3 separate regions of the Homo sapiens genome follow, and regions 1 and 3 are each linked to region 2. The links come from fine-mapping of genetic effects on gene expression. A gene starts in region 2. Each other region holds a variant in brackets. All regions are shown on one strand. Distances are between the middles of the regions. Region 1 has its middle 27 kb from the start of DARS2. Region 2 holds the start of DARS2 (aspartyl-tRNA synthetase 2, mitochondrial). Region 3 overlaps KLHL20 (kelch like family member 20).

What was found. PIP is the estimated chance that this variant, and not a neighbour inherited with it, causes the effect. A credible set is the group of variants that fine-mapping cannot tell apart.
Region 1: its variant is the best candidate, but not a certain one, in a credible set for the expression of DARS2 in whole blood (INTERVAL, PIP 0.87).
Region 3: its variant is the best candidate, but not a certain one, in a credible set for the expression of DARS2 in subcutaneous fat (GTEx, PIP 0.84).

The regions. Positions count from the first base shown.
Region 1 is chr1:173,796,212-173,798,953 of GRCh38, forward strand. No RefSeq gene overlaps it. Among named protein-coding and RNA genes, the nearest start is that of DARS2, 27 kb to the right of the region's middle. RefSeq lists a silencer at 2,346-2,546. The variant T/G (reference allele first, on the strand shown) is at 1,190.
Region 2 is chr1:173,823,447-173,826,192 of GRCh38, forward strand. It overlaps DARS2 (aspartyl-tRNA synthetase 2, mitochondrial), which reads left to right and starts at 1,227. Exons shown (of 17, transcript NM_018122.5): 1 at 1,227-1,910. The coding sequence starts at 1,784. It overlaps CENPL (centromere protein L), which reads right to left and starts at 1,437. Exons shown (of 6, transcript NM_001387287.1): 1 at 766-1,437; 2 at 480-573. RefSeq lists enhancers at 714-953, 931-1,449, 1,184-1,743, 1,450-1,967, 2,609-2,746.
Region 3 is chr1:173,758,669-173,761,426 of GRCh38, forward strand. The region is part of intron 7 of KLHL20 (kelch like family member 20); the gene reads left to right. Among named protein-coding and RNA genes, the nearest start is that of KLHL20, 45 kb to the left of the region's middle. RefSeq lists an enhancer at 266-766. The variant TACTC/T (reference allele first, on the strand shown) is at 1,624.

The DNA of each region.
Region 1 (2,742 bases), 27 kb before region 2:
TTTGCTGCTCTTCTTTTTCTAGGATGGAGCCTGCTAGAATATACAACCAAAATACCACAAATTTAAAGATACTAAAAATTTAAAGATACACAAATTTAATGATACTCCAGGCTGGGTGCAGTGGCTCCTGCCTGCAATCCCAGCACTTTGGGAGGCCAAGAGGGGAGGATCACTTGAGCCCAGGAGTTCAAGACTAGCCTGGGCAACACAGCAAGACCCCAACTCTAAAAAAAAAAAAATTATCAAAAAAAAGAAAAAAGGCCAGACATGGTGTTACACACCTGTAGTCCAGCTACTCAGGAAGCTGGGGCAAGAAGACCACTTTAGCCCAAGAGTTTGAGCCCAGCCTAAGCAACACAGCAAGATCCCATCTCTAAAATAAAAATATAAAGGCCAAGTGTGGTGGCTCACGTCCATAATCCTAGCATTTGGGGAGGCCAAGGCAGGAGGATTGTTTGAGCCTCGGCTCAGGTGGGAAGGGTTAAAGACCAGCCTGGGCAATATACTGAAACCCCATCTCTACCAAAAATACAAAAAATTAGCTGGGCATTATTGCATGCACCTGTAGTCCGAGCTACTTGGGAGGCTGAGGAGGGAGGATGGTTTGAGCCCAGGAGGCAGAGGCTACAGTGAGCTGAGATCATGCCACTGCACTCCAGCCTGGGCAACAGAGCCAGACCCTGTCTCAAAATAAAATAAAAGTAAATTAAATTAAAATAGATACTGAAAAAAATTTGTGTGGGCTGGGAACAGTGGCTCATGCCTGTAATACCAGCACTTTGGGAGGCCAATGCAGGAGGATCGCTTGAGCCCAGGAGAACAGCTTGAACAACATAGGGAGACCTCATCTCTACAAAAATTAAAAAATTAGCCAGGCTTGGTGGCAATATGCCTGTGGTCTCAGCTACTTGGAAGGCTGAGTTTGGAGGATTGTTTGGGCCAGGGAGGTCAAGGCTGCAGTGAACTGTGATTGTGCCACTGCACTCTAGCCTGGACAACAGAGCAAGACCGTGTCTCAAAAAAGAATAAAAAAACTTGTGTGATTATGCCATGAACTTAATACAGTTAGGCTCATTTTTTTTTAATTGCTAAGGATTGCTTTGTTTTTTCCTTTTGTTCTAATTTTCTTTCATAATTATACAAAACACTTACATGGTTCTAAACTATTAAAAAGGAACATTCAGGTAAA[T/G]CTTAACTTTCATTCCTGTCCCCTCTACTCTGTTCCTTCCTTCTCCCTATAAGTAAATACAGTTATAAGTTTGTGGTTTATCCTTTCATTGTTTTTTGAAAGCATAAGGAAATACACTCATATCTCCCTCATTCCTTACATAAAAAGTACAATACTCTACATTCTGTCCACATACATTGCTCTTTCACATAACAGTACATCTTGGAGATCACTCCATGGGAGTAAAGAGATATCTTCCCCAATCCTTTTTATAGCTGCATAGTAGTAATTCATTTTGCAGCTATACCAGGCCTGATGAGCATCTGAGTTGTTTTTAGTCTTGCTATTACAAATACTATTGTAATAAGTAACCTTGTACATGCTTCATTTCATATTTTTTTGCCAGTGAATTTTTGGGACAGAATCCTAGAAGTGGAATTGCTAATCAAAGGGTGACTGCACACATAGTTTTGTTTAATATTGCTAACTTCTTCTCCATTAGGGTTTTATCATTTGCAATAACCTTTTAACTGTTTCCCTTCTTCCACTCTTGTCTACCTACACCCATTCTCCCTCATATCTTATAAAATCCTATAAAATACTAATTGAATCATATTACTCTCTTACTTAAAATCTTTCAGTGGCTTCCCATTGCATTTAGAATAAAATCCAATCTCTTCACACTATAAAAACTTAGATGATAGAGCTCCTGCCTCTGTATCAAGTTAGGATTAAGTTTGACTATGAGCAAGAAAGACCCAAAATGACAACAGCTAAAACAAGAGAGAAGTTTACTTCTCTGACAAGTAAGTCTAGAGGAAGACTGCCCAAGGCTGGCACTGGAGTTCACCTTCAAGAAAACCTCAGGGCACAAGCTCCTCCCAGGCCATGCTCTGTCATCCCTAGGACTTGTTCCTCAACCCCAAGACCTAAGAGAATAGCTATAGTACTAGTCATAATATCAATGTTCCAGGCAGCAAAGTTGGAAGAAGGGAAAAGTAAGAAAAGGGGGAAGGGGTACATGCCAGTTGTTTTTTATTATAGGTAAGATTTCTGGAAGCTCTATATGACACTTCAATTTGTATCCCAAATCAGAACATATTCATATGACTATACCTACCTACGAGGAAGGCTGGAAAATATCATCTTTATTCTGGGCAGCCAGGTGCCCTAGCCAAAAATTGGGACATTTTATGCCATGGAAGAAGTCTTTGCTGCACAACCTATTCAGTTTCAGCTCATAATAGGCCATACACCCTTATTCACTATGCTCTAGCCAAAAAACTTCCTTTGTTCTTCAAAGCAGCCAAACTCTTACCTATCTCAAGGTTTCTCCTGCCTAGCACACCCTTCCTCAGATCTTCACATGGCTGGTTCCAACTCATCATTCAGGACTCAGTTCAAAAGGTCACTTCCTCAGACAGACCTTCTTTGACTACTGTATGAAAGGTAGGCCCCACCCCAGTCACCCTTTTTCATATTGCACTGCCTTATTTTCTTCATAGCATTTGTCTCCATCTGAAATTATTAACCTTTTGCCTTATTTCACTAAAATATAATTTCCTCAGAACAAA
Region 2 (2,746 bases):
TTCTTTAAGAGGTTAAATGACAGCCCTATACCCAAACATGCACCCCCTACTCTAGACAGATGATCACTCTACTGTTCTCCCTGCCTTTTTATTCACCTTATCGCCAATTAAAAACACTTCTCTACTCCCGTTTGTCTCAGTAAATCTTATCCATTTTCCATGTGCCATCTCCTCAGAAGTTTTCCTGAGCTTGGCAGGGCTAGTTCTCTTGACAATTCCACTTGCAGTTGTGGTTCACAGCACACAAGTAAAGCTTTGTTGTTTCTCTTGTGATTAGTCCGTGAAGGGGCTCTGACTTGATCACTTTTCTACATTGCCACCAATACCTAAATCCAACCGCCCCAATGCCAATACTTAGCCAGTGTTAAGCACGTAGTGTTTAAACACACCTCAACACGCAAGTATTGTAAGATAATGACCACACAACAGGGCAAATACAAAGTTAAAGCAGGTCCGGGACCAATACAAAGCATCTTTACCAATAAAATGCCGTGATGACGCTGTCACCCATTCCGGATTCACGAATCATTCTTCAAAAGTCCGGCTCCAAAACTATGTGGAGACTGAAATCCCCTGAAGAAAAAAAAAAAAAACCGCCAAAATGACAGCTAAGACAGAGGCCAGACTAACCCCTGGCCCTCCCAAATTCCCTCTCGCTCCACAAGTGGGTTCACAAGAGACACAAACGCACCCAGGAAGACCTCCGCTCCCTCAGACGCGGGGCGGGCCCTGCGACTTCACTCTGGGAGGGACATTTCCGCTCACCCAGCTCTGCGACCCTCGCTCCTGCGGAGTCAGCTTCTGCTCGCGGAGGGGGAAGGGCAAAAGGACAGTGCGTCCCAACCCGTCCCTCTCCAGCTGAGCCTGTCAGAGACCAGCCCAGCTCTGAAATCAAGCCGTTGAGAAAAGGGAATTCGGCCCTCCGCCGCCTCTTCAGTTTAAAATCGTTTCCCGACTCGCTCTGCGGCCCCACGCAGGAAGCCTCCTTGGCGCCTCGCCGATTCCGTATCAGTGAAGCAACTAAAATTGCCATTTTAACTGAGGGCAAGGCCGAGCCACTTAACCACTATCGTCAACCTTTCCAATCGTGCTCGGTTGCTCCTCAGTTTTCCTACCGGTGCGAAGCTTTCTCTCAAATTTCCGCCCGTAGTAGGCATGGCGGCGGCACCTCACCACTGATTCGTTGAATTCCTTCCCGGTAATCTTGGGCACTAGCGGGCGGAGTTGAAGGGCGCTTGGACCCCAGCGGCGATCTGTGTTTGGGTTCGCGCTCTGGGAGAATTTTGGCTTTGCTCGCCTTCCTCTTTCAGAAGACTCGAAATCGGCCAGCAGGTCTGCGAGATTTGAAACGCGACTGTTACTCCTTGTTTTCCGGTTCTGGCCGCGGGAGCCTCTCGAGAAGCGTGGAAAGAGGAGAAGGGCGTATACCTTGTGACCGCCTCTGGTTGTCTTGGGCTCGCGCCTGGCGCCGCTACGTGGAGTCGCTCTCTCGTCGTCACTTTTGGCTGCCGACTTGTTGAGTAGAAGTGCAGACTGATGCTTTAAGACTCAGGGAGAGGTCTTTCCCTTATCTCCACCCCAGCAAGCACCCCAGAGACCTTGGAGATTTGTCTTGTTTCTAGACACGTGTACTCCAATGTTGTGCGGAGGAGGCCTTAAATATTCGAGAAGAGAGTGGGAACTCCTGGAATTTTAAGGGATTTCTGTGTATTTCCAAAACTGACTTTTAACTACCGGCAGCGTGGGATTTCGTGATTGTTTTTCGCCATCGTGTGGCTCCAACATGTACTTCCCTTCTTGGTTAAGTCAGCTGTACAGGGGTTTATCCAGACCCATCAGAAGGACCACCCAACCGATCTGGGGTTCTCTCTACAGAAGTCTGTTGCAGAGTTCACAGAGGAGAATTCCAGGTGAAAATAGCGAAGAGATCTATCCTATGAACAGTACTTCAGCCTGTTATCTACGGCCGGAGAGCTTTTATTCCATTTTTCATTTTTTCCCCCATTATTATTATTATTATTATTATTATTATTATTATTTGAGACGGAGTCTCGCTCTGCTGCCCAGGCTAGAGTGAAGTGGCGCGATCTCCGCTCACTGCAAGCTCCGCCTCCCGGGTTCACGCCATTCTCCTGCCTCAGCCTCCCGAGTAGCTGGGACTACAGGCGCCCGCGACCACGCCCGGCTAATTTTTCTGTATTTTTGGTAGAGCCGGGGTTTCACTGTGTTAGCCAGGATGGTCTCGATCTCCTGACCTCGTGATCCACCCGCCTCCGCCTCCCATAGTGCTGGGATTACAGGCGTGAGCCACCGCGCCCGGCTTTTCCCCTGTTCTTAACTGGATAGCCTTATGTGTAGAAGCGAAATTCACTCTCATTATATTCATTATACGGCAGTTTTTTTTCCCTGAGTTTTTAGAAAGACCACAAAAAGGTAACCACGTAATATATAGAATACTCTGCTTTTGGTTGATGCCTTAAAAAAATCCTTCTTCGGCCGGGCGCGGTGGCTCACGTCGTTAATCCCAGCACTTTGGGAGGTCGAGGAGGGCGGATCACGAGGTCAGGAGATCGAGACCATCCTGGCTAACACGGTGAAACCCCGTCTCTACTAAAAATAAAAAAAAAATTAGCCGGGCGTGGTGGCGGGCGCCTGTAGTCCCCGCTGCTGGGGAGGCCGAGGCAGGAGAATGGCGTGAACCTCGGAGGCGGAGCTTGCAGTGAGCCGAGATCGCGCCACTGCACTC
Region 3 (2,758 bases), 65 kb before region 2:
TTAGAGAGGCAAGCGAAATAACAGGGGTAGAGGAAGCAGCAGAAAGGCCCTGGGAGTTTGCTGGGTCCCCAAGCAGGCCATTCCTGCCTGGCACCACAGGGATCCATTGGGAGGGTGGCCAGAGGAGCAGGGGATAAAACTCCCCAGGGAGAAGGAATTCTCTAGCTGAACTTTGTAACAATTTGAACAGGGTGAGAAGCCTCCTGACCAGAACTCAAGGTAGGGTGCAAATCCTGCATGCAGACTTCACCGGCAGGGGGAAAACTAAAGCCCTTTTCTCTTGCAGCTGGGAGGCGGATAGCCTGGGGCAAGCCTGCTGCCCGCCTGTGGCCTGGAAACAGACTCAGAGTTGTGAGAGGGGCACGGTGGGAGTGAGACCATGGGAGTGAGACCAGCCCTTCAGTTTGTGTGGGAGCTGAGTGAGGCCTGTGACTGCCGGCTTTCCCCCACTTTACTGACAACCTGCATGACTCAGCAGAGGCAGTCATAATCTTCCTAGGTACACAACTCAAGTGACCTAGGAATCTCTTCCCCCATCCCCAACAGCAGTCGCAACAAGACCCGCCCAAGGAGAGTCTGAGCTCAGACATGCCTAATCCTGCCCCCACCTGATGGTCCTTCCCTGTCCACCCTGGTAGTGGAAGACAAAGGGCATATAATCTTGGGAGTTCTAGGACCCCACCTACCACCAGTCTCTCTCCACACTACTACAGCTGATGTTTTCTGGAAAGCACCACCTCCTGGCAGGAGGCCAACCAACACAAAAATAGGGTATTAAACCACCAAAACTAAGGATCCTCACGGAGTCCATTGCACCCTCCACCAGAACAGGTGCTGGTATCCACAGCTGAGAGACCCATAGATGGTTCACATCACAGGACTCTGTGCAGACATCCCCTACTACCAGCCCAGAGCTGAGTAGACTTGCTGGGTGGCTAGACCCAGAAGAGAGACAGCAATCACTGCAATTTGGTTCACAGGAAGCCACATCCATAGGAAAAGAGAGAGAATACTACATCAAGGGAACACTTCGTGGAACAAAAGAATCTGAACGATAGCCTTCATCCCTAGACCTTCCCTCTGACAGAGCCTACCCCAATGAGAAGGAACCAGAAAACCAACCCTGGTAACATGATAAAACAAGGCTCTTCAACACCCCCAAAAAATCATACTAATTCACCAGCAATGGATCCAAACCAAGAAGATTCCCTGATTTACCTGAAAAAGAATTCAGGAGGTTAGTTATTAAGCTAATCAGGGAGGGACCAGAGAAAGGCAAAGCCCAAGGCAAGGAAATCCAAAAATGATACAAGAAGTGAAGGGAGAAACACTCAAGAAAATAGATAGCTTAATGAAAAAACAAAAATTCAGGAAACTTTGGACACACTTTTAGAAATGCAAAATGCTCTAGAAAGTCTCAGTAATAGATATGAACAAGTAGAAGAAAGAAATTCAGAGCTCAAAGACAAGGTCTTTGAATTAACCCAATCCAACAAAGACAAAGAAAAAAGAATAAGAAAATATGAACAAGCCTCCAAAAAGTCTGGGATTATGTTAAACAACCAAACCTGAGAATAATCGGTATATCCGAGGAAGAAGAGAATTCTAAAAGCCTGGAAAACA[TACTC/T]GGGAGAGTAATCAAGGAAAATATCCCCAGCCTTGTGAGAGACCTAAACATCCAAATACAGGAAGCACAAAGAACACCTGTGAAATTCATCACAAAAAGATCTTTCCCTAGGCACGTTGTCATCAGGTTATCCAAACTCAAGATGAAGGAAAGAATCAAGAGCCATGAGACAGAAGCACAGGGTAACTTATAAAGGAAAACCTACCATATTAACAGCAGACTTCTCAGCAGAAACCCTATAAGCTAGAAGGAATTGGGGACCTATCTTCAGCCTCCTCAAACAAAACAATTATCAGCCAAGAATTTCGTATCCAGTGAAACTAAGCATCGTATGTGAACGAAAGATAAGCCGTTTTCAGACAAAGAAATGCTGAGATAATTCGCCATTACCAAATCACCACTACAAGAACTTCTAAAAGGAGCTGTAAATCTTGAAAGAAATCCTGGAAACACATCAAAACAGAACCTCTTTAAAGCATAAATCACACAGTACCCATAATGCAAAAATACAAGTTAAAAAGCAAAAACACAAAACAAAACCAAAGTACATAGGCAAGAAAGAGCACTACGAAAGTAAAGTAACGGTACCTCACATTTCAATACTAACATTGAATGTAAATGACCTAAATGCTCCACTTAAAAGGTACAGAACCGCAGAATGGATAAGAACTCACCAACCATCTGCTGCCTTTGGGAGACTCACCTAACACATAAGGACTCACATAAACTTAAAGCAGTGGAAAAAGGCATTTAATGCAAATGGACACCAAAAGCGAGCAGGGGTAGCTCTTCTTATATCAGACAAAACAAACTTTAAAGCAACAGTGGTTAAAAGAGACAAAGAGGGACAGTATATAATGGTAAAAGGCTTTGTCCGACAGAAAAATATCATAGTCTTAAACATACATGCACCTAACACTGGAGCTCCCAAACTTATAAAACAATTACTAATAGACCCAAGAAATGAGATAGACAGCAACACAATAATAGTGGGAGACTTCAATATTCCACTGACAGCACTAGACAGGTCATCAAGAGGGAAATTCAACAAAGAAACAATGGATTTAAACTATACCTTGGAAAAAATGGACTTAACAGATATATACAGAACATTTCATCCAAAACCCACAG